Linked DNA regions of Homo sapiens. The protein of the gene in region 4 purifies or fractionates together with the protein of the main gene of each other region. This does not show direct contact. Each region holds a gene or a part of one and is shown on either strand. Other genes may lie near its edges.

The links.
Region 1: the proteins of FKBP3 (region 4) and DIMT1 fractionate together in Homo sapiens (co-fractionation; one large-scale study listed by BioGRID). This does not show direct contact.
Region 2: the proteins of FKBP3 (region 4) and EIF2B3 fractionate together in Homo sapiens (co-fractionation; one large-scale study listed by BioGRID). This does not show direct contact.
Region 3: the proteins of FKBP3 (region 4) and ITIH2 fractionate together in Homo sapiens (co-fractionation; one large-scale study listed by BioGRID). This does not show direct contact.
Region 5: the proteins of FKBP3 (region 4) and NELFB fractionate together in Homo sapiens (co-fractionation; one large-scale study listed by BioGRID). This does not show direct contact.
Region 6: the proteins of FKBP3 (region 4) and MYH10 fractionate together in Homo sapiens (co-fractionation; one large-scale study listed by BioGRID). This does not show direct contact.
Region 7: the proteins of FKBP3 (region 4) and MAP1S fractionate together in Homo sapiens (co-fractionation; one large-scale study listed by BioGRID). This does not show direct contact.

Annotation. Positions count from the first base shown.
Region 1 is NC_000005.10:62,390,406-62,393,905, reverse strand, and holds part of DIMT1 (dimethyladenosine transferase), read left to right. Parts: intron 1-915; coding exon 916-980; intron 981-1,671; coding exon 1,672-1,735; intron 1,736-1,899; coding exon of another isoform or gene 1,900-1,935; exon of another isoform or gene 1,936-2,187; intron 2,188-2,880; exon of another isoform or gene 2,881-2,923; coding exon 2,924-3,030; exon of another isoform or gene 3,031-3,500. UniProt on the Homo sapiens protein: Specifically dimethylates two adjacent adenosines in the loop of a conserved hairpin near the 3'-end of 18S rRNA in the 40S particle.
Region 2 is NC_000001.11:44,980,096-44,983,595, reverse strand, and holds part of EIF2B3 (translation initiation factor eIF2B subunit gamma), read left to right. Parts: intron 1-2,418; 5' UTR 2,419-2,427; coding exon 2,428-2,575; intron 2,576-3,500. UniProt on the Homo sapiens protein: Acts as a component of the translation initiation factor 2B (eIF2B) complex, which catalyzes the exchange of GDP for GTP on the eukaryotic initiation factor 2 (eIF2) complex gamma subunit.
Region 3 is NC_000010.11:7,709,816-7,713,315, reverse strand, and holds part of ITIH2 (inter-alpha-trypsin inhibitor heavy chain H2 precursor), read right to left. Parts: intron 136-3,500; coding exon 31-135; intron 1-30. UniProt on the Homo sapiens protein: May act as a carrier of hyaluronan in serum or as a binding protein between hyaluronan and other matrix protein, including those on cell surfaces in tissues to regulate the localization, synthesis and degradation of hyaluronan which are essential to cells undergoing biological processes.
Region 4 is NC_000014.9:45,117,482-45,120,981, forward strand, and holds part of FKBP3 (peptidyl-prolyl cis-trans isomerase FKBP3), read right to left. Parts: intron 3,474-3,500; coding exon 3,406-3,473; intron 645-3,405; coding exon 547-644; intron 1-546. UniProt on the Homo sapiens protein: FK506- and rapamycin-binding proteins (FKBPs) constitute a family of receptors for the two immunosuppressants which inhibit T-cell proliferation by arresting two distinct cytoplasmic signal transmission pathways. PPIases accelerate the folding of proteins.
Region 5 is NC_000009.12:137,265,327-137,268,826, reverse strand, and holds part of NELFB (negative elongation factor B), read right to left. Parts: intron 2,951-3,500; coding exon 2,848-2,950; intron 2,497-2,847; coding exon 2,401-2,496; intron 1,884-2,400; coding exon 1,741-1,883; intron 1,588-1,740; coding exon 1,481-1,587; intron 1-1,480. UniProt on the Homo sapiens protein: Essential component of the NELF complex, a complex that negatively regulates the elongation of transcription by RNA polymerase II.
Region 6 is NC_000017.11:8,624,226-8,627,725, forward strand, and holds part of MYH10 (myosin-10), read right to left. Parts: intron 1-3,500. UniProt on the Homo sapiens protein: Cellular myosin that appears to play a role in cytokinesis, cell shape, and specialized functions such as secretion and capping. Involved with LARP6 in the stabilization of type I collagen mRNAs for CO1A1 and CO1A2.
Region 7 is NC_000019.10:17,722,480-17,725,979, reverse strand, and holds part of MAP1S (microtubule-associated protein 1S), read right to left. Parts: intron 1,855-3,500; coding exon 1,772-1,854; intron 932-1,771; coding exon 791-931; intron 152-790; coding exon 1-151. UniProt on the Homo sapiens protein: Microtubule-associated protein that mediates aggregation of mitochondria resulting in cell death and genomic destruction (MAGD). Plays a role in anchoring the microtubule organizing center to the centrosomes. Binds to DNA. Plays a role in apoptosis.

The DNA.
Region 1 (3,500 bases), on a different chromosome or scaffold from region 4:
GGGAAGATGTGTGCCTATAACAGCAGAAAAATATTGAATCAACCTAAATATTCAAACATAGGAAAATGTTAATTAGGACACATCCCTGTGCTGAAGTAGATGGAATAATTTGATGCAAGGTAGTTTTGAAGTGAGACCCAGTCTCAAAAAAAAAAAAGAAAAAATGGAATAAAACTAGGAAAACAAGGTAAAATGAAAATAGTTGTTTTAAAGTAGTATTATGGGTAACATCTTTTCATTGTAATTGTTTTTTGAGATTTAAAAACAAGAAAGAAGACCACTTGATATAAAACCTTACTACAGCCACATTAGAGAAAAACGTGATTGTGTGTGTGGTCAACTGGTGGTAAATGGAGTGGTTTGTCAATAACTCCTTCAAGGAGGTTTAGGTGTGTTACACAGGAAGTATCTGAAGTCATGTCTGTTTTGAATCTTATTTTTGAAAATGATACTTAGATTTAAATAAACGCCATGTTCTTTGTTCAGATGTGGGACCATTTTGTTTTTCCTTCCCTTTCTTTTTTTAAGATGGGGTTTCACTATGTTGCCTAGGCTGGACTTGAACTTTTGGTCTCAAGCGATCCTCCCACCTCAGCCTCCTGAGTAGCTGGTACTACAGGCATGCAGCACTGTGCCTGGCTTTATTTTTTCAAATTAAAAAAAAAAATTGTCATGCTTTGTCAAAAAAAAATTCTGAGGAAAAGACATATTCAGTGAAATGCGCCAAAGTGCAAAAATCAAATGTATGTCTTACTTTTGCATGTGTGTGCCAGCCAGATCAAGATTACAGAACATTTTCTTCACTTCAGAAAGTTTCCTTCAATTGTATATATTAAAAGACAAAATAATACCTAGTGGGCATAGACAAGAACAAGAAGTTTGTAATTTGAAGAAAATGTCTATCTTCTATTTCAGGAATGGGATGGTCTAGTAAGGATAACCTTTGTTAGGAAAAACAAGACACTCTCTGCTGCATTTAAGTAAGTATTACACTAATTTCTAATGTATAAAGGGCCAGTGCTCCAGATACTATGCTAGAATTTGGTCCTTTTCCTGAGCAGCTACCCTAAAGCATAAAGATTATGGGTCCAGACAAACTTCACCTTTTAAACTATCTTTAGAGCTTGGGAGGCTCTAAAGCAAACTTAATGAAGAAAGTTTGCTGGAGTTGAGAGTCAGATCACATTTTTTGGCAAAACAGGAAAACACTCCCAAACTCTGACCATATATCTGCTCTAGTTTTTTGTTGGAAAAATGAGGTGATGATGGACCCCTTCCACACTTGTGAAGGATATGTGTCATGTAATTAACCTGGGAAAATGCAGCTCATCAATTTGGGGTTCAAGGGTAAAAGAGAGGTGAGACACAGTTTTACAGGGCTTGGAGATTTTTTTTTAGGGGATTTTTTGTGGAGAGTCTAGAACTTCTCTAAGAATTTAAGAGGTATTAGGATTTTGCACTTTAAATATATTTAGTGTTTGCTTCATAAGTTTAAATATTCAACAACTTTTAAAATTCCTTAATTTCACCATACAGAATATAGATTTAATTTCATCTAAAATGAAATTATTGCTTAAATGGCTTATGTATTAGTTAAAAAAAAGTTTAAAAAAGTAAGAAATTACTCTGACTTTGGAATAATAACAGTGGCATCACTTCTTTATGCTATAGATCAAGTGCAGTGCAACAACTCTTGGAAAAAAACTACAGAATTCACTGTTCAGTCCATAATATTGTAAGTTAGAAAATGTTCCTGCAGTTTCATTGATTTGTTTTCTTTTAAAATGTCCATTTTTATTCTTGTTGATCTAGCATGAGATTATTTTGTACATTCCATAAGATCCTTAAAAGACAATATATAATGTATAACTAGCACAATTTTGACTTGAATTCTGACAGGTCAGTGCTGCTGTGTATCCTGTGAAACAGATATGAGCAACTTTGATTACTCCACCCTGTCCTCTAACTACTGACAGTTGTTTTTAGCCATAACAAGAATCAGATTCAGCAGTTACAGGTTCCTCAAAGCTGTAGATATGTGTAGCTTGCACAACTTAAAATAATTGTGTAGTTTACTGTCCTCTGAATTGTGACCACGTCTTGTTTCTTGCTCACATAGCAGTTACAAATATAGTTATTACTTTCTTTGTATAGAAATTGAAATAAAGTTCATATGGCTCAATAGCAGATTTCTGGTTGTGAGCCTCATGCGTATCATTTGTGTAACAGTGTGTGCGATGTGATGTTTGCTATCTTTTTAGCTTCCAGTTTAATTAGAACAGAGAGAGAAAGGCCAATTTTCTTTTTATTTTTTATGACTCAGAACCTATATGGTTTAATGTATCACAATACTATCTCCATTTTCTCTTTTATGGGCAAAAAGTCATTAGATAATCTGCCTAAGTATAATAGAAAAATATTAAGCTAGATTAAGAAAAATATTTGGATAAAATATGTGAATTAAGTGTAAAATCCTTTTGGATAAAATATGTGAATTAAGTGTAAAATCCTTAATATTCCCAAGGCTTGGGCAGGTCACCTCTTTGAGAAAAATGAGGTGGTTAAGGTCAAATCTGTAGGAAGAAAATGCATTATTTTGAAAGGAGTAACAATTGCTTTAAAATTTAATTTACAGTTGTAATTATTTGTGAAGTCTGAAACTAATAACTATTTCAGAATTTTAAAGAAGAAAATGGCTAATATAGACAGGATTACTAATTCAAGGTATTCCAAGTTTTTGTTAATAAAGATCAGCCACTTTTAATTAGAGATCCAAGTCTTAATGTAAAAATCAGGCTTTCCAAAGTCTCATTAACAGATATATTAAAGGTGACTATTTTATGACTTACTGAACTAAAAAAAAGAGTCAAGGTGACCTCATTAAAGATATGTCGTTCATTTATTCTGAATCTTATATTGATAGATAATACCAGAAGATTTCAGCATAGCAGATAAAATACAGCAAATCCTAACCAGCACAGGTTTTAGTGACAAACGGGCCCGTTCCATGGACATAGATGACTTCATCAGGTAATTACATTTTTGTTTTCCTAAGTGTTTACATTTCTTTACTGTGACACCTTCAGATTGGAGATTTTAAAGGCTTTTAAGCGGTATAAGGTGCTACCTGGGAGAGTTATTGCATAGCACTTCCATGGCATGGAATAGTATTTGGTGTAGAAGATGGAGGCTAGTTAGCTGCAGCAGAATGAACATTTTCTTTAAGAACAGTAGTAAAGAACAGTCCGAGCCAGAAGATTGCCTTTGTGTTAATGTGGTGTGCAGGTTCCAATGTGGTGTGCAGGTTCCTCCCTTCCTGCTCCTTCCCCAACTCTCATTCATAGTCTTAGTCTTAATAGCTTATCCCTCCAAAATAGTCCATAAGGTAGAAAAATCATAATACATGTAACTGGATCTGATTTTTAAAATTTCCTTACTGGGAATAGCTGTTGTTAAATCAATCTTAAGCATACAATAATGCCAGTTAGAATCCTACCTGG
Region 2 (3,500 bases), on a different chromosome or scaffold from region 4:
CCAGCTCATCTTTTGACTCTTAAGGGTCCAGTGCTCTTTTCATAATAACATTTGATGTGGTGGATGTTATATAATACCAAAATGAAATTAAATTACACTTTGAGGCAATGCTTGCTAGAATCTACATGACCATATCTTTACATTGTGAATGTTATGCAGGAGCCTTCACTTTGTGCCTTGGGTATAGTAGGTGTTAAGTGCTGCACTTTAGATGTTGATGTGCTGGGCCCAGGAGTAATAATAATTATAGTAAAGTTGCAACATTATTTGGCAATTTGATGTTGAATAGATTGTTTCTTCTGAACGTTACATTTTAACACATTTGTTCTTAAAATTACATCATTGTAAGAGAAAGTACTTTCAGTTTAAATCAGTAAAGATCGGTCAGGTGCAGTGGCTCATGCCTCTAATCTCAGCACTTTGGGAGGCCCAGGCAGGAGGCCTGAGGCCAGGAGTTTGAGACCAGCCTGGGCAGCATAGTGAAACCCCATCTCTATAAAAAATTAATTAAAAGAATTAGCCAGGCGGCCAGGTGCAGTGGCTCATACCTGTAATCCCAGCACTTTGGGAGGCCAAGGTGGGCAGATCACCTGAGGTTGGGAGTTCGAGACCAGCCTGACCAATGTGGAGAAACCCTGTCTCTACTAAAAATACAAAATTAGCTGGGCAGCTGGGCGTGGTGGTGCATGCCTATAATCCCAGCTCTTTGGGAGGCTGAGGCAGGAGAATCACTTGAACCTGGGAGGCAGAGGTTGTGGTGAGCTGAGATCGTGCCACTGCACTTCAGCCTGGGCAACAAGAGAGAAACTCCGTCTCAAAAAAAAAAAAAAAGCCAGGCATGGTGGTACCCACCTGTAGTCCCAGCTGCTCCAGAGGTTGGGGCAGGAGGATTGCTTTAGTGCAGGAGGTTGAGGCTGCAGTGAGCCATGATCTTACCACTGCACTTCCAGACTGGGCAATGGAGCAAGACTCTGTCTCTAAATAAACAATAAATAAATAGGATGGGCACGTGGCTCACACCTGTAATCCCAGCACTTTGGGAGGCCGACTCCGGTGGATCACCTGAGGTCAGGAGTTTGGGACCAGCCTGGCCAACATGGTGAAACCCCATCTCTACTAAAAATACAAAATTAGCCAGGCATGGTGGCCCATGCCTGTGATCCCAGCTACTCGGGAGGCTGAGGCAGGAGAATCGCTTGAACTTGGGAGGTGGAGGTTGCAGTGAGCCGAGATCACGGCATTGCACTCCAGCCTGGCAACAAGAGTGAAATTCCATCTCCAAAAATAAATACATAAATAAAGATTTATGACCTTCTACTGTGCCTCTGTTCTGTGGTAGTTTCTGTAAAGAGATTCTTTTCAAAGTCAAATAGGTTTGTTTATTACCTTGAGTTTGAAAAAAGGAATTAACAGTTTGGTTTGTTTTTATAATTGTGTTCTGTAAATCTAGGTTCAGATACAAGCCTACGTTTGTGTTTATAGTGATATCTTTAAAAATTGGAGGAATAAGATGAGCCGATGGCTGAATTATTGGAGGAGTCTTAAGTCATTTCATACTTTTCAGAAGCCTAACATGCTTGTGTTTCTGCTGTTAATTCTAGTCAGGCATCTTTTAATATTTTCTTTTTTCTCTCTTTTTTTTTTTTTTTTTTTGAGACAGGATCTCACTCTGTCACACAGGTTGGAGTGCAGTGGTCCAATCTCAATCTCGGCTCACTGCAACACCTGCCTCCCAGGCTCAAATGATCCTCCCACTTCAGCTTCCCAAGTAGCTGGAACCATAGGCACAAGCCACCACCCCTGGCTAATTTTTTGTATTTTTGGTAGAGATGGGGTCTCGCCATGTTGCCCAGGCTGGTCTCGAACTCCTGAGCTCATGTGATCCACACACCTCAGCCTCCCAAAGTGCTGGGATTACAGATGTGAGCCACCTCACCCAGCCTAATATTTTCAAAGAATAAAAATTCACACATCAGAAGTCCACTTGGTAAACTCTTACTTCTTCAGAGTCAGCTCAAGCATCACTTTCTATAAAAACTTCTCTGTGTTTTCAATGAAAACTAGGTGTTCCTTTTATTGTATGCCCACTGTATCTTGGATATTTTTCTGCTGTGGCACTAATGACATATATTGTGATTTACTGAATTTGTCTTCTCCACTTAATTGTGAATAACTCAAGGGCAAAGCCCCTGCATTCCTATCCTCCCACTTTTACCAAGGATAGAACTGAGAATACATATTGGTAGACATAATGTTTATCTGCAGCTAAGCTTTTCTTACTGTGATTGCTAGAGTTAGGAATTATGCATTTGACATAGTGGGTATCAGTAACCTAAATAAAAATAGGCTAGTAGTATGTGTGCTTTGATTTTTGTTACATTGTTTTTTTTCTGTTAATTGTTTTTTCTGTACTTGCAGTTTGTAAAAATGGAATTTCAAGCAGTAGTGATGGCAGTAGGTGGAGGATCTCGGATGACAGACCTAACTTCCAGCATTCCCAAACCTCTGCTTCCAGTTGGGAACAAACCTTTAATTTGGTACCCATTGAACCTGCTTGAGCGTGTTGGATTTGAAGGTGAGCTATGACAAAGTGAGCTGTGAACTCATAAAACTTTTAGGAGATTTGATCCCCATGATTTGTCAGCGTTATGAGAATGAGAGAGGGTGACTAGAACTCGTTGGCTGAAGACTGCCTTCTTTAAGGAATGTAGGAGTACTCTATTGCTGTGTGAAAAAGGTTGAGAGGATAGCACTAAGTGTTGTTGTTATGGAGCTGATGTCCACAATGATCCAAGACGAACTCTGTAAAGATATCAGAAAGAGCAGATTGAGACTCTTAAATGCCTCATAGTCAGTACTTACTGAGAATCTATTATGTACCAGGTAATATTTATATTATCTGATATTCAATATATATATGTTTTAAATTTTGTTTTGATGTAAGTACCAGGTTATATATTAAACACGGAGGTACAGAATTGAAAAGACAGCTCAGGCCCTGACTTCCAGAACTTTAAAGTCTAGTGATCCTCTCTACTTTTTGCTTGGGTAGCTAGGTAGATAGTTATGCCATTAAGTAGGAAAAGGAATAGGAGACAAGGAACAGGTGTTTTTTTTTTGAGACAGAGTCTCACGCTGCCACCCAGGCTGGAGTGCAGTGGCACGATCTTGGCTCACTACAACCTCCGCCAGGGTTCAACCTCTCCCGGGTTCAAGTGATTCTCCTGCCTCAGCTTCCTGTGTAGCTGGGACTACAGGCATTTTCCACCATGCCCGGCTAAGTTTTTGTATTTTTAGTAGAGACAGGGTTTCACCATGTTAGCTAGAATGGTCTCGATCTCAGGACCTCGTGATCTGCCCACCTCGGCCTCCCAAAGTGCTGGGATTACAGGCATGAGCCACCGTGCCTGGCCAGGAAAAGGTTTTAATGAATTTTATTTTCATTAAAATAATGAGTTCAGCTTTGGTCACATTGAGTTTGAGGTGTCCTATATTTAGAT
Region 3 (3,500 bases), on a different chromosome or scaffold from region 4:
AAGGGCAAGCCTTGCTCACTCAGGCCTTACCTCACCAAGCCAGCCGTCTTGCCTTTTGCTCTGGCCTGTGCATAAAGAGCTCGGCCCACAGTTTTCTCCTTAATAGAGCTCCTAAATGTCTTGCCGTCCACAGTCCTAGAAAATGACAGAAGGTAACCAGTTGGTCAGAATAGTAATCTTTTTTTTTTTTCCCCTCGAGATGGAGTCTTGCTCTGTCACCCAGGCTGGAGTGCAATGGTGCAATCTCAGTTCAGTGCAACCTCCACCTCCTGGGTTCAAGCAATTCTCCTGCTTCAGCCCCCTGAGTAGCTGGGATTATAGGCGTCTGCCACCAGGCCAGGCTAATTTTTTGTATTTTTAGTAGAGATTGGGTTTCGCCATGTTGGCCAGGATGGTCTCGATCTCCTGACCTCATGATCCACCTGGCTTGGCCTCCCAAAGTGCTGGGATTACAGGTGTGAGCCACCGCGCCTGGCCCAGAATAGTAATCTTAGCAAAACAAACAAGAGCGAGCAAACAACCCAACAAGGCTAATTTAATGAATGAGGGCAATGATCATTTTGTGTCTATAAGAAATAAGAAGGGAGGCATTCAAATAGTTTATGGACAGGACTTCCTTTATTGATTGGATAGTGTGGCTTGAGAGGGGTTTGGTAGGCTCCCATCCTAAAACCTTTCCCTCATGTACTGTTGTTTGTTTATAGATTTTTCCTCATCTTTGAATTTCATCCTTTAGATTAAGGATGGTTCTCTTTGGGTATCCCCTTTGAATGACAAATGTGATTAGGGGAGGTGACTGATAAATTCCGAATTATCTCATTACTGGTTCATCAGGTCATTCTGTGAGCTAAGAATTTGGCATCGCTGTGGGGTATGCAATGGACCGAATGTTTATGTTCCCCGCAAATGTGCATGTTGAACCTTACTTCCTAGGACGATGACATTACGAGGTGGGGCCTTGGAGAGGGCTCTCTCCTCATGAATAGCATTTAGTGCTGTCATAAAAAACAGACTTCGAAGAGCTCTCTCATCTCTTTCCATCTTGACTGAACCAGGAAATGGGCCCTCACCAGACACGAAATCCTTGGGCATCTTGATCTCGGACTTCCCGGCCTTCAGAACTATGAATTTTAAATTTCTGTTGTTTATAATCTACCCATTTTATGGTACTTAGTCATAGCAGCCGGAGCTGATGAAGACAGAATATTATGCTCCTCTGCAAGGGTGGAAAAGAATAAAGAAAAAGGGGGAAGGTGCTGGTGGGTCCCCTGCCAAGGTGGTGTTTATCTGGAAACCATCTCCCTTGGGGACCTCTGTCTTCTATTTGCATCTCATCTCTATACACCTTACCTTTAGCTGGCTAGCACCTAATCCTTACCAAGTAATGGTTGGTCAGAGTGGTAGAATCCAGAATTTTGGAAGTACATGGGAACTTCCAGTACTCAAATGGGCAGTGTCTTTCCCAAGGAGCAATTTGGAAATGTGTGAAGTTTGGGTTGTTGAGATGACTTGGAAGTGCTGCTGGCATTTGTGGGAGGACACCACGAATGTTAGTCATCCTGCAATATGAGGGACAGCTCCACTGAAGAATTTTCCTGCCCCAAATGCCAACAGCACGTGTGTTGAGGCACACTTGTGGGTTTGCCCCTTTAGATGAGAGACATCAGACCCCAGGAGACAGGTGACTCTTGCCAAGGTCACACTGCTGGTCAAGGCCATCATGCTTCTATCGAATCAGAACTAAGTCTCAAAGGCCAAGGGGTCTTTAGGACAAAGGAAATCATCTCCCATAGAATATTCAAGATCTTGATAAAAAGGTAAAAGGGATATTTTGGCTAGTACATAGGTCTACACAGCTCATTTTAAGTTGTGATAATTAAGCAGGTATCTTCTCTGGTCTTATAGATTCAGCTCAGAGCAGAGGGAGATAAAAGTAAATGCATGTTTCACGATTCTGTCCTTTGTACTTCAAATCTTCTATGTAATGAGATAGTAAAGAAAGAACAGAATGAAGGACGGAATAGTATGCAGCCATAAAAAGGAATAAGATCATGTCCTTTGCAGGGACATGGTTGAAGCTGTAAGCCATCTTCCTCAGCAAACTAACACAGGAACAGAAAATCAAACACTGTATGTTCTCACTCATAAGTGGGAGTTGAACAATGAGAACACATGGACACAGGGAGGGGAATATTACACACCGTGTCCTGTCGGGCGGTAGGGGGCAAGGGGAGGGAGAGCATTAGGACAAACAGCTAACGCATGTGGGGCTTAAAACCTAGATGATGGGATGATAGGTGCAGCAAACCACCATGGCACATGTGTACCTATGTAACAAACCTATACATTCTGCACACGTATCCCAGAACTTAAAGTAAAAAAGAAAAAAAAAAAAGAAGGAAAACAGAAATAAGAGATCTTTTGAGTAAATTCTGATTGTGTGGTTTAAAAATAGGAATTTATTAAAATAGTTTTCAATGTCATTTCTAGACATGGGGTCATATAATACCAGTACAGAAAAGCCTTTCCTTCTCCCTTTGCTTTTTAGAAAAGGCAGACAAAAAAAGTGATACATTTTAAAGCCAATTCAAAGGATACCAATTAAAGTGACACAATGCCTTTTTCTGCCTATTTGGTTAGAGTTCACATGACTGCCACTTTCGGCAGCCAAAGTACATGGTGGTTGAACCCTTTACTATTTATCCACAATGATCACTGATTACCTTGGTGTATGAAAGACAAAAGTGGATGAGAAGTAATTCAACCTAATGTCTTCATAAAAAAAAAATAGCCAGACTTTATGCACAGTACTTTGCTGTGTTCTTGGCAACTTAAGAGGGACATTGACCACCTGGAACATACTCTGGGTTGGCCACCTTGATATTTGGACATAGAAATCATTCCAATCACTTAGAGGAACAGAGAATATTTAACTTTGATACATGAAGGCTCCAAGTGGATAACTGGTATTAACTGTTTGGAAAGTATTGGAGTAGTTTAACCTTCTTTTATTACGAAAAATTTCAAACACACAGAAAATAGAGGGAATAATATGAGATGTCCATGAAACCATCACTGAGCTACACCATTATGAATACTCAGCCAATCTTAATTTGTCTGTACTCTCATGCTTTCCACCTTAGTTGTTAAGAAGCCAAGTTCAAGGCCAGGCACGGTGGCTCACGCCTGTAATCCCAACACTTTGGGAGGCCGAGGCGGGCAGATCACGAGGTCAAGAGATCGAGACCATCCTGGCTAACACGGTGAAACTCCGTCTCTACTAAAAATACGAAAATTAGCCAGGCATGGTGGCGGGTGCCTGTAGTCCCAGCTACTCAGGAGGCTGAGGCAGGAGAATGGTGTGAACCCGGGAGGCGGAGCTTGCAGTGAGCCGAGATCACGCCACTGCACTCCAGCCTGGGCGACAGAGCGAGACTCCATCTCAAAAAAAAAAGAAGCCAAGCTCAGATGGCACATCATTTCATCTATGAACACTTCAA
Region 4 (3,500 bases):
TTTTTTTTTTAAATGTTCACAAACTGGACTTATCAGTGAGTATTGTCATTAGTAGTAATAATAAATGCTTACACTAACACTGTTGATTCTGTGGTCTCCTTCAGTTCACAACTGGTAATCTCCCACATCTATTCCATTTCTAAGCTTTGAATTTAATTGCCTGAAATTATACTGTACCATAAAATTACCATGAGCCATATTTGCATCGTAGTTTGCTACAGTTTGTACTGGGCATGGTAACTTTTCTTAAACTCTTAAAAACATTAAGAATTGCTGTTTAAGCTTAAACTTCACAGTTAAGGTCTTGAAAGTTAAGAATTTGAATAAGAGAAACAAAAATTCTAGCTGAGGTTTGAACTTTATATCAATAGAAAATACTATTGCCTATTGGAGGTGCTGACACATAAGCATCTAAAGATCAGGAAGACTAGTCTGGACAGGATTCTTGATCCAGAAGTTTGCCTAGACAGCATCTTTCACATCCTCAAAGGTGATCTAGACGTTTTTTTTTTTTCAACTTTAATTATGAAGGGGAAAAAAGGATACTTGGCATCAGGCTGTCCTTTCTTTCCGTAAGCCCATTCTGGTTCAATCTCCAGTCGAGCCTTTTCTCCTTTACTCATAGTCAAGAGAGCTTCATCCCACTAAAGGCAAGAACAAAATAAAAACTAATGGTATTTTGCAAAAAGCACATGCAATACCAGGACAGTCAAGACAAGATTGTATGTTAAAACAAACACAGAATCTATTACTATAGATTTCACTATATTCTAAGATAATGTACTTCAGTGAGTCCCTAAATCTTTGTCTTCCATTTCTTCAATAGAAAAAAAAGGGTATTTTAAGCAGGGCTTTTTTAATGTGAAAAGAACCTTTTGGGGCTCATACCTATAATCCCAGCACTTTGGGAGGCCGAGGTGGGCAGATCACTTAAGGTCAGGAGTTTGAGACCAGCCTAGCTAACATAGTGAAACCCCATCTTCTACTAAAAATAAAAAAATTAGCTGGGTGCGGTGGTGGGTGCCTGTAATCCCAGCTACTCGGGAGGCTGAGGCAGGGGAATCACTTGAACCCAGAAGGTGGAGGTTGCAGTGAGCCAGGATTGAGCCACTGCACTCCAGTCTGGGCAACAGAGTGAGACTCCTTCTCAAACAAACAAACAAAAAACAAAAAAAAAACTTTTTGTAAACTGTAACATGCCATACATTATGAAAACCAGTTAGTTATTAGCACCATCATAAACCTGCAACACTTTTACATCACAGGACAAACGAGTTTATTTTTATTGGAATACACTGGCAAGTACTCACTGTAAAATTGTTTTAAGATTACCAGATTGTAATAGTGGAGTCACGTTGGCACATAAAATACATTTTTTTCTTTTTTTCTTTTGAGATGGAGTTTCGCTCTTGTTGCCCTGGCTGGAGTGCAATAGCGTGATCTTGGCTCACTGCAGCCTCTGCCTCCCGGGTTTAACCGATTCTCCTGCCTCAGCCTCCCTAGTAGTTGGGATTACAGGCATGCCCAGCTAATTTTGGAAATACAATTTTTAAAATGTTACGGCACTAAGATCTTTTGCAAAAGGTAAAACTAACTTTTCAAAGAAACAATAAAAGTCTTCTGGGTTGGCCTCTCCATATTTTCCAAATTTGGATCTTAAAGCTAGTTTCCACAAACAGTTAAATCCACATCACCAAAGGGATAATATTCCTAATATTATATGCTGTATTGAAATGCAACAATCATATAAAGCACAAGGGACAAAGTTAGGGTGGTCACATTTGGAAAATAAGAATATGGTAGACTAGCCGGGCAAGGTGGCTCGTGCCTGTAATCCCAGCACTTTGGGAGGCTGAAGATGAAGAGGGCGATCACTTGAGGTCAGCACTCAAGACCAGCCTGACCAACATGATGAAACCCCATCTCTACTAGGAATGCAAAATTAGGTGTGGTGGCGCATGCCTGTAATCCCAGCTATTCGGGAGGCTGAGGCAGGAGAATCGCTTGAACTCAGGAGACAGAGGTTGCAGTAAGCCGAGATTGCACCATTGTACTCCAGCCTGGACAACAAGAGCAAAACTCCGTCTCAAAAAAAAAGAATACGGTAGACTAGAAGAAATTTACCAGTATGCAAATAAGTTACAGAAATAGAAAAATGGCCCAATTTGATAATATACTTGCTATCAACTTGGTACGGGCAGGTAACAATTTTTTTTTTTTTTTTGAGATGGAGTCTTGCTCTGTTGCCCAGGCTGGAGTGCAGTGGCGTGATCTCAGCTCACTACAACCTCCACCTCCCAGGTTCAAGCAATTCTCCTGCCTCAGCCTCCCAAGTAGCTGGGACTACAGGCAAGTGCCACCATGCCCAGATAATTTTTTGTATTTTTAGTAGAGACGGGTTTCACAGTGTTAGCCAGTATGGTCTCGATCTCCTGACCGACCTTGTGATCCACCCACCTCGGCCTCCCAAATTGCTGCAATTACAGGCATGAGCCACCACGCCTGGCTGGGGCAGGTAACAATTATAAGTTATGCTCAACTAAACCTTTAGTTTTAAGATGTTTTATATTCTGTATATGATTGTCTGAACCATATCTTAGGACCTACTGATTGTACAGAGAGTAATATATTGAAGGTTCCTATAACTGCATTTAAATAGGCATTTCAGTTATTGATGTCTGATGTTCTGAGAATAACAATTTAAAACAAACAATGGGCACAATGGGCAGGCCTTAGCATGAAAACCTGATTCATAGAAGGTGACAGTCTGCCCTACTCTTTTATCTTCTTTTGTACAGTATAATGGTCAGTACGGGTCAAGCCTAACTTCCTCTTTTCTCAAAGTTTCTTTCTGTTATCTCTCACATATAAGTGTAGGTTAAAGCATGCTCATGTTTGAATGATTTTCTGGTATTGCAGCCTATGTTGTATGAGGTGAAAAGGCTGCAGAAACAAACTCTGCTTCTGTGAATACTTCAGTGGGACAGATATTTTACCTTTGCAAATTATATGTAAATGGTACAACAGTTATAAGACATTTTACAGGAACCTTAAATTTAGAGGGCCAAACATTCTGACAAAGACTTACTTTATGAAGAAAAATAATAAAATGGGTACACATGGAAGGGACTAATATTTAAGCCCCTACTGTATTAGGTACTTCAAGTTATGCTCATTTAATCTTCTAAAAACCTTGAGGTAGGCAGTACTGTCCTCATTTTATATGTAGCGAAACTGAGACCGAGATAACTTGTGCAAGATCAGCTAACAATGATTATACCCAATCTGTCAGACTCCAAAGTCTGTTTCCTTTGTATTATATCCCCAAACCTAATTCTTTACAGCACCATACCAGAAGCAGCATATGCCAGAATATCTACTGATTCATTGGCATTCTTTACTTACTCCTCTGATAACTTTGCCTACTCCGACCTTAAAACTTAAAGGCTTGGCATTTTTCTTCTTCTTTGCACCTGTAAAACAGATTTTCCTTATCATTA
Region 5 (3,500 bases), on a different chromosome or scaffold from region 4:
ATCTCTCTGTGTCTCATCTCTGTCTCTGTGTCTCTCATCTTTGTCTCTCATCTTGGTCTGTGTGTCTCTGTCTCTCATCTCTGTCTGTGTCTGTCTGTCTCCCCTGCCCGTGCTCTCTTGCCCTCTGCCTTCCACCATGGGATGACACAGCAAAAAGCCCCAGCCAGATGCAGGCCCCTTGACCTCGGACTTCCCATCCCAGCCCGCAGAACTGGGAGAAGTCCCTGCTCTTTGTTTTTTTGAGACGGAGTCTCGCTCTGTCGCCTGGGCTGGAGTGCAATAGTGCAATCTCCACTCACTGCAACCTCCACCTCCCAGGTTCAAGGGATTCTCCTGCTTCAGCCTCCCAAGTAGCTGAGATTACAGGCACCCACCACCATGCCCAACCAATTTTTGTATTTTTTTAGTAGAGACAGGGTTTCACCATGTTGGCCAGACTGGTCTCGAACTCCTGACCTCGTGATCCGCCCGCCTCAGCCTCCCAAAGCACTGGGATTACAGGCCTGAGCCACCGTGCCCGGCCGTCCCTGCCCTTTCTACACTACTCAGTCTCAAGTCTCTGTTAGAGCAGCATAACGTGGACTAAGACAGCAAACCCCAGACAAGGCCTGAGTCAGCAAGGAAGAGCCCAGGGTCTGTGTCACAGTGGGTACCGCAAGGCTAAAGAGGCCCCATCTCCCATGGGACCCACAGCAGGCTAAAGAGGCCCCATCTCCCAGGGGACCTGCAGCTCTACTCTTGAAGGTGCCCATTTGGACCCTTCCTCTTCTTCCTGGCTTGCAACAACCCCTCCCCCGTCAAGGCCCCCAGGAGGAAGTGGGCCTGTCACCACCTGGGGTGGGGCACTGGGGCAGGGGATCTCTCTCCCTCCCCTTTGCTCCATTCTCTGAGCACCTGAGGGGTCCCAAGCCCCTCGCCAGTTAGGATGAAATAAAGACAGCTCTTACATCACCTTTTTGTGGGAAAGCACAAAGTTGAACTCCCTCTCCCTTTCCTAGTAAAATAAACTACAAACAAAAGTAAAAGTGAAAACGAGGCTGGGAGTGGTGGCTCACACCTGTCATCCCAACACTTTGGGAGGCCGAGGCGGGCGGATCATGAAGTCAGGAGTTCGAGACCAGCCCAACCAACATGGAGAAACCCCGTCTCTACTAAAAATACAAAAATTAGCCTGGCACGGTGGCACGCGCCTGTAATCCCAGCTACTCAGGAGGGTGAGGCACGAGAAATCACTTGAACCTAGGAGGCAGAGGCTGCAGTGAGCTGAGGTTGCACCACTGCACTCCAGCCTGGGCGACAGAGCAAGACTCCATCTCAAAAAAAAAAAAAAAAAAAAGGTGAAAACAAAGCTAGCAAAGTTGGAGGTGGGCTGGGGAGACAAGGCAGCTCCTGGGGGCCCTGGGGCCCGCACCCTGGGCAGGACTGCATACGGCAGCTGCCGCAGGGAAGACACAGCCAGGCACCGCCCGTCAGGACTTACCCAGCCCGGGCAGCAGGCGGAGGAGCGCGTTCTTGTTCCTCTGCTTGGTGATGTGCAGGACGTAGTACAGCCCCACCTCGCAGGCCATGCGCTGCTCCTGCAGAAACCTGCGCCCGGGGCGCCATCAGCCCCACCTCAGCCCCACCTCAGCCCCACCTCAGCCCCACACCGACCCCTGCCCAGCCCTGAGGCAGCCCCCTGGGCAACAGTGCCATCCCTGCGCCACGGCCACCCCTGCACCATGGCCCTACAGCCCGTACTTAGTGAAGCTTTCGGGAAGTGTGTTTGGATATGAGACTGGGGCTTTCTCCTCAGCCGGAAGTTTCTGATCCACATTGAAAGTGTAGTCATCCACCAGGAAGGACATGAGCATCGGGAGGAACCTGGTGATGAGCTCTACCTCCTACGAGGAGGGGAGGCCATGAGCGGGCGCGGGCCCGGGCCCTGCCCCACCCCACCCTGACGTGACACACACCCTGCCCCTGGCCCTCCCACTCCCCCAGATACCTCACCGACCCTCCCTCCTCTCCAGGTCCCCAGGTCCCTCTTCCCACCTCCCGAGTCCCCCACCCAGGCCATCTCCTCAAACCCCCTTCTAGGTCTGGACCCACATGGAGTAGTCACCACCTGTGGCCAGCCATGGTCCATGGAGACACCCCCAGAACAAGCCACGGTCCACGGAGACACCCCAGAACCAGCCACGGGCCATGGAGATACCCCAGAACCAGCCAGGGTCCACGGAGACACCCCAGAACCTCCCTGGTGGGCATTTTCCCAAAAGGAAGGTGGGCAGCTCCAGGAAGGAAGCTTTGGGACCAAAGGGGCCTCCACAATCACCTTGCTAGCGCCTCCCCCTCCACCCCACTTCCAGCCCACAACCCCTCGTAGGAAACTGGCAGCCCCCACAGGAGGCTCGTTACCATCTTGGGCTCCTTGAAGACCTGGCTGTCGATCATGTCCCAGGCTCCCTGGCCCAGCGCCAGCAGCCGGAGCAGCAGCAGGAGGTCGGGGCTGTCCTGTAGGGAGGACGGGCTCAGCGCCTCTCCCAGGCAGCTGTGTCCTGGCCATGGAGCTCCTCTGACCCTACTCGTTACTCAGCAGGATCTCTGGTGCCCATGGCCAGGACCACACGACTGCGATCACCAGCCCCACACACGGGGTGAAACGCAGTCTCACAGCGGGGAAGCACACGCCTCTACCTGGGCCACTGCAGTCCACATCCCCGACCACCAGAGCAGCCAGCAGGGCGGCCACAGGGCCCCAACAGCTGCCTCCACCTGGCCGCTGCTGTCCACACCCTGACCACCCAGAGCAGCCAGCGGAGTGGCCGCATGGCCCCGACAGCTGCTGGCCAAGCCCACACTCACCCTGGGCAGTGTCTCCTGGCCGACCAGCTCCTGCAGGTGCCTGACTGTGCTCAGTGCCAGCGTGTTGATGGCGAAGGGGTCACACAGGATCATGGACAGGTCCCTGGAAGGAGGCCGCCCTGGCATTAATGCGACGCCTGTTGCCCCTCCCTTCAGCGGCACAGTCCTCAGGAGGGGTGGCCTAGGCTGAATTCAGGACTGGCAGCGGGTGCCCATCACATGCTGGGTTTCTTACAAAAAGCTTAAGGATGGCCGAGCGCGGCGGCTCAGCCTGTCATCCCAGCACTTTGGCAGGCCGGGCGCGGCGGCTCAGCCTGTCATCCCAGCACTTTGGCAGGCCGAGGCGGATGGATCACCAGGTCAGGAGACTGAGACCAGCCTGGCTAACAAAGTGAAACCCTGTCTCTACCAAAAATACAAAAAATTAGCCGGGCGTGGTGGTGGTCGCCTGTGGTCCCAGCTACTCGGGAGGCTGAGGCAGGAGAATCACTTGAACCCGGGAGGCAGAGCTTGCAGTGAGCCAGGATCGCGTCACTGCACTCCAGCCTGGGCAAGAGAGCGAGACTCTGTCTCAAAAAAAAAAAAAAAAAAAGCTTAAGGTTTGCAATTTGTCCTTAACCTATTCAAAGATTTTTCAAATTAAAAAGTTAAAA
Region 6 (3,500 bases), on a different chromosome or scaffold from region 4:
GAGGAAGCTCCATCACTTTGTGGCTAAGCTATGTCCCCTCCTCTACTTGTGCACTGGCTTTCTGGACCAAATGGCAGGATTTTACATCCATCATCTTTCTAATGTGACTCATCATGATTGCCTGACAGGATCTTTTTGGGATTTGATACCAACTTAAACATTTTTGCTGCTACTCCAAATTCCAGGTTATTATAAATTTCATAGGCATGGCTTCCATCACTTCATTCAAACCAACAGAAGAAGCCAACTGAGTACCTACTCTTGCTCTATCAAATCCCCACTTCTCCCCTCTGTTCACTCCACTCCCCTAGCCAAAAATGCTAGAGGTTCTTTGTAGGCAAGAGGAAATCATAAAGTAGTCTAAGGTTGTTAAGAGGTTCTTGAGTCCATCAGCTAATCTCAACTTCAACAAAATCCCTGAAATGGTATAAAAATATTATGCACTTAGCGTGTGTATATATGTGCTATAACGTTCTCTAGATTCTAAAGGGCTCTATCTGTATCCTAAAAGATTAATCACTGATAGTGGTTACACATTCAACCAACTTCTGGGCACAATGGCCCATAACTGTTATCTCAGCAACTTGAGGGGCTAAGGTGGGAGGAGTGCTTGAAGCCAAATATTTGAGACCAGCCTGGGCAACATAGCAAGATCCCGCCTCTACAGAAAAATTTAAAAATTAGCCAGGCGTGTTGGTGCATATCTAGCCCTTTAACTACTACTAATAATTTACTAGAACCAGCTGGGTGCAGTAGCTCATGCCTATAATCCTAGCACTTTGGGAGGCCGAGATGGGTGGATCACCTGAGGTCAGAAGTTCGAGACCAGCCTGGCCAACATGGTGAAACCCCATCTCCACCAAAAATAACAAAAAATTAGCCAGGCGTGGTGGTGGGTGCCTGTAATCCCAGCCACTCAGGAGGCTGAGGCAGGAGAATTGCTTGAACCTGAGAGGCGGAGGTTGCAGTGAGCTGAGATCGTGCCACTGCACTCCAGGCTGGGTGACAGAGCAAGACTCCGTCTCAAAAACAAACAAAAATAAATTTAAAAAAATAATTTACTAGAACCAAATAGCTAAGATTCTTCAGAAATTACTTGTTGCAATGTAATGCGTTACAAACACTCATCTTCTATAGTAGCGGCTGTCAAATTCAGGCATGCATTTGCAGCACCTAGAGGGTTTATTAAAATACAGATTGCTGGGCTCTATCCCAGAGTCCCTGATTCAGTAGGTATAGGGTAGAGCCTGAGAACTATTTTTTTTTTTTTTGAGACAGAGTTTCACCCTGTTGCCCAGGCTGGAGTGCAGTGGACGCAATCTCAGCTCACTGCAACCTCTGCCTCCAGGGTTCAAGTGATTCTCTTGCCTCAGCCTCCCAAGTAGCTGGGATTACAGGCAGGCCTGCACCATGACCCGCTAATTTTTGTATTTTTAATAGAGATGGGGTTTCACCATGTTGGTCAGGCTGGTCTTGAACTCCTCACCTCAGGTGATCCACCTGCCTCGGCCTCCCAAAGTGCTGGGATTACAAGCGTGAGCCACCGCGTCCAGCCTGAGCCTCAGAATTTGCATTTCTAACAAGTTCCCAGATGCTGCTGCCACTGCTGGTCCTGGGACACATTTGACAACCATTGCTCCAAAGTTCTGTGGTTGCCATGGTGCGCCACTGCTACCAGCAGGTATGTTAGAGTAGAAAAAGAGGTTGAAAACCAAATTCTAGACTAATTCATAACAATTTAAATAACATGTTGATGTCTTAAAGGTTATAGACTTGGATAAAACAAAAACCGCAAAATAAGATGAAACAAAAAATCACACAACATGTGATTAATGTTATTAAAACTTCTATACAAATAAAATTGCTAACACATTTTATACCTAAACTTGCATTAGTCTTCTAAGACATCCTCTTTGGAGAGGGCAATACAGAAAACATTCATAGATACATGTACATTCTGCATAACAGTTTTAAAAGCCTCTAGGGACTGGTCTAATAACACTATTAACAAGTTGTCTCTTTCCAACTTAAACGTTGCACACTGGTAAAAAGAAAGGAGGCCAGGTGGGGTGGCTCACGCCTGTAATCCCAGCGCTTTGGGAGGGCGAGGCAGGTAGATTGCTCGAGTCCAGGTGTTCAAGACCAGCCTGGGCAACATAGCGAAACCCCGTCTCTACAAAAAATACAAAAAATTAGCTGGGCTTGGTGTCACAGGCCTGCAGTCCCAGTTCTTCAGGAGGATGAGGCAGGAAGATCACTTGAGCCCAGGAGGCAGAGGTTGTAGTGAGCTGAAATCACACCACTGCACTCCAGCCTCGGCAACAGAATGAGACTCTGTCTCAAAATAATAATAAATAATAATAATAATAATAATAATAATAATAAGTAAAATAAAAAATTTAAAAAAAAAGAAGAAAGGAGGCATGGCTTCAAGGTGGGAAACATCACAGGTAAATTTGAGAACAAATAATAGGATACACACTCCACCTTTCAGAAGGGTAGAATCTATTAAAAGAAAATATTCAACTATAACAAAATATGACAAGTTTCTCTTACTATTCTTATCAGGTGTAAACTGCATATCCTACAGAGCACTTAGGAAACTGTCTTGCTGTCAGTAGACACGCACACACTTCTTAAATTTTACACTGGACATGTAATTAGATGCTTAAATTTAGCAGGTGACTATAAATTAGAATAATTTAACAAATAACTTCTAGAACAGGTCTAGAAGCAGTAGATTATATATCTTAAAATTATTTTATCAAATTGGGACATCTTACATATTATCAGTACTTTTTCTAGATGGGGAAATGCTTGTAATTTAGTATTTTAAAAAACCCAGTAGAACACAAAAGTGTAATTACACAGCATGTTCCCAATTTTGTGGGGAAAACTACATACACGTGTGTATTTTTTTTTTAAACGGAACAAATATTCATTGGGTCTTTACTGGGTAGTAGGATTACCAATGACTTTCACCTTTTCAGTCTCTTCTACAACTAAACACTATGAGGAGAGTCATCTGTTCCACGCTGTATCTTGAGCATTTTGTCTAGTCCCTGGTATATAACAGGGGATCTGTACCTATTGATCAATATTTACGTGAATGGTCCCAACCCTCATAGTGAAATTCAACTTCTCCACAACCAAAAAGCTATTATTCCTTCAACTCCTGACCCAAATGCCATCCTTTCAGAAGTTCTTTTCAGGTCAATGTGGCAATTTAATCCTTTTCCTTCTCCTAACATTTTGTACTGTTCTCCTGACTTTCTTCTTACCCTACCCTGCGTTGTACCAGAGGGCTTTGCAGCTGTTAAGTGTTCATATTATTGTTTACCTGATAGAGTTCATGAGACCATTGGAGATATTTTGTTCAGTTTAATTCTTCACTTGTAATTGTCAAATACATTTATTTCACTCCATAATACATTGGTACCCAATCTGGATAATACTGGTGTTTAACAGTGTACCACTCACCAGTGATTTGCTTTGCAGGA
Region 7 (3,500 bases), on a different chromosome or scaffold from region 4:
CCGGGGGGTTCAGCCGCAGCTGGAGCCGGAGCGCCCCCTGAAGGCCAGGCACAGCGGGTGCCAGCTGAGCCCAGTCACCGAAGGTGGGGCAGGTGATGGTGAGTATGGGCGGCTGCACAGGTGGGGGCGTGGTGGCCAGGATGTCCCGGATCTGTATGGAGGAGGAGTGGTAAGGGACCACCTAGAGCCAGGCAACACCTAGCCCGGTGGGAAAACTGGGCGAGGACACCCTCATCCTTTCCCCCAGGGCCTGCTCCTCAGGGCCCTCCCGCCAAAACCCAACCCTCTCCAGCGCCACAAGGCTCTTTGATCTGGCCTCACCTCCTGTCTCTCCCTCCCCTTCAAATGCCTCCCTGCCCCAGGGCCTTTACACTCACCATTCTCTCCTCCCAGGGCACAGCTCCCTCCAAGGAGACTCTCCACGCCCCACCTGTCTACTGAACCTTTTCTCACCATTTTTAAGTGCCCCACTACAATGTGAAAGTGAGGTTTGCCATTTTGCCCATGTGTCCTACCCAGACTGCGGGCACCAGGAAGGACCCATTTGGCTCCATCCCTCATCAGGACTTTGGGACATCTGCTGACCTACAAACTCAGCTCACACCACACCCTTTCGCGGGCAATGGGACTGACCCCAGACAGCCAGGAGGCATGTGTCACCACTGCCATCCTACAGAGGATGGGGAGACCAGGCCATGGAAAACAGCAGGTCGCTGGTGCCACACAGCCTGATACACCCCAGTCAGGATTCAGAGCTGGGGAAGCAGGGGATGGCAAAGGGGTGGCTTACCTCTCTGTCCTTCAGGACCTGGAGGAAGTGGTGAGGCGAGAAGCCCCCTGTCTGTAGCAGCAGCTCCCCCGTCTCCTCCAGGCAGGGCCCAGCCAACACCAGTAGCTTGTGAGAGGCAGGGTCCAACAGAAGGTTCCGGAGCTGAGGGAGGGGGTGAACACTAAAGGACCCGTTCTGTGCAGTGACGTATCCAGCAGTCCTCTTTGGGGTAGCCTCGAGTCGATACATAACCACCCCTCTCCTGTCCTCACCCCACGACCAGCCCAGTGCTCAACTAGCTACGAAGGCAGTCTCCAGGTCTCCTGCTGGGCCCTGGAGCAACCCTAGCAAACTCCTATTCATCCTACAAAGCCCAGCTCTGATGTCCCTTCCTCCTGAAGGCACTACTTGCCCTTTCTGGGCTCTCTCTAGTCCACCTCTCCCTCCAGCCCAGCCCTGATGCCACAGGGCTGGGGGTGTCTGTGTCTCACTCTGTCTCTTAAAGACTGAGAGCCCCTCAAGGGAACAAAAGGGAAAAGTTGATCCAAGGAATCAACCTGTAAGAAGGTCTGTAGTGGGATGCCCCAGGGCTCTGTCTGGTTCATCTTCCGGATGTATAATTGGTAGAGTACAGATGGCCACAAGCTGGTTAATGTTAGTGAGTCGATTCAGACAACTCCTGGGGCCTAGCCGGAGGGAACCCACAGGAGGAAAACCTGTCTGCTCTGGCCTTCCCACCTCCAGACCCACGCTGTCCTGGGCCCTGAGCTGGGAGTGCTTACCCTCCCCTCCCTCCCAAAGTCCAGGCTTTTCTGCTCCCACCCCAGAGGAGGGAAGAAGCGGAGGCTGAAGCCACAGGGAAGGCTTCGTGGGCGAAGAAGTGTGGTGCCGGGTGTCTTGAGAGGATCTGGGGCAGCATGAAGACAAGGACACGAGACAGGAAGACAGAGAAGGCACGGGTCCCAGCAGCCCGCCCCCTCCAGGACGTCAGCCATTCCCTACCTCATCATACAGGGACTTGTCTGATGGGTTCAGGAGGACCAGGGTCTCCAGGTTGTCTCCACGGTGGTGCAGGCTCCGCTGGCCTGTGGGGGAATCAGGCCGTCCCGGAGTCAAATCCTGCCTCCCCGTGTGACCCTCAGGGAACATGAACCCCTCTGGGAACCCACCCAGGGATCATATGGAGATTAACAGGCGCACGGCAGAGCTGCAGGTCAGGACCAGGCAAGAAAGAGAAACTCAAACCACCCCAGCTGGCCTAAGAGAGGCAGTAACCAGAGGGCCCCATCGTGCGCAGGGCCTGGTTTGCAGCTGTCACCCCTGGGAGTGATGCCACCATTTTCTTCTTTTTTTTGTGAGACGGAGTCTCGCTCTGTCGCCCAGGCTGGAGGGCAGTGGTGCAATCTCTGCTCACTGCAAGCTCCGCTCCTCCTCCCGGGTTCACGCCATTCTCCTGCCTCAGCCTCCCGAGTAGCCAGGACTACAGGTGCCCGCCACCACACCCGGCTAAGTTTTTGTATTTTTAGTAGAGACAGGGTTTCACCGTGTAAGCCAGGATAGTCTCCATATCCTGACCTCGTGATCCGCCTGCCTCGGCCTCCCAAAGTGCTGGGATTACAGGCGTGAGCCACCGCGCCCGGCCTTTTTCTTTTCTTTTTTTTTGAGACGGAGTTTTGCTCTTGTTGCCCAGGCTGGCGTGCAACAGTGCAACCTGGGCTCACTGCAACCTCCGCCTCCTGGGTTCAAGCAATTCTCCTGCCTCAGCCTCCCGAGTAGCTGGGATTACAGGCACACGCCACCACGCCCCATTAATTTTTTCAATTTTTAGTAGAGACGGGGTTTTAACATGTGGGTCAGGCTGGTCTCAAACTCCTGACCTCAGGTGATCCGCCTGCCTCGGCCTCCCAAAGTGCTGGGATTACAGACTTGACCCACTGCACCCATCCGGCCACATTTATTTTTCAGACAGAGAGCCAGAGCTCGAGGAGGGCCAATGAGGGCGAACGTGGACGAGGGTACATCCGGAGCAAAGGTCCTGAGGCAGGACTCAGCTAGGGGTGGGGCAGCATAAGGGCCGGGGCTGAAGTAGGGCTGTTTCTGGGATCCTGACCCTGCTCTGTCCCCCAGGGCCCGTATGTGTTTTAAACATCAGTACTGTGAGAGGGGGGTGGCAAGGAGCCAGAGCCGGGGTGGGGGCCGGTGAGGGCCAACCCGGACCAGGGTACAGCACCAGCCAAGGCCCCTGAGGCAGGACTGAACTGTGAACAAGGCTGAGTCTTGAGAGGCAGAGACCCTCCAGTGTTGCCAGCCCTTATCACATTTAACTTTCTTTCCTTTCTTTCCTTCTTTTCCCTTTCTCTCTCTCTCGCCCTTATCACATTTAGCTTTCTCTTTCCTTTCTCTCTCTCTCTCCCTCCCTCTCCCCCTCCCTCCCTCCCTCCCTCTCTCTCTCTCTCTTTTTTGAGATGGAATCTCCCTCTATTGCCCAGGCTGAAGTGTAGTGGCACGATCTCAGCTCACTGCAACCTCTGCCTCCTGAGTTCAAGCAATTCTCCAACCTCAGTCTCCCAAGTAGCTGGGGTTATAGGCGCTTGCCACCACAACCAGCTAATTTTTGTATTTTTAGTAGAGATGGGGTGTCACCATACTGGTCAGGCTGGTCTCGAACTCCTGACCTCAGGTGATCCACCCACCTCAGCCTTCCAAAGTGCTGGGATTATAGGTGTGAGCC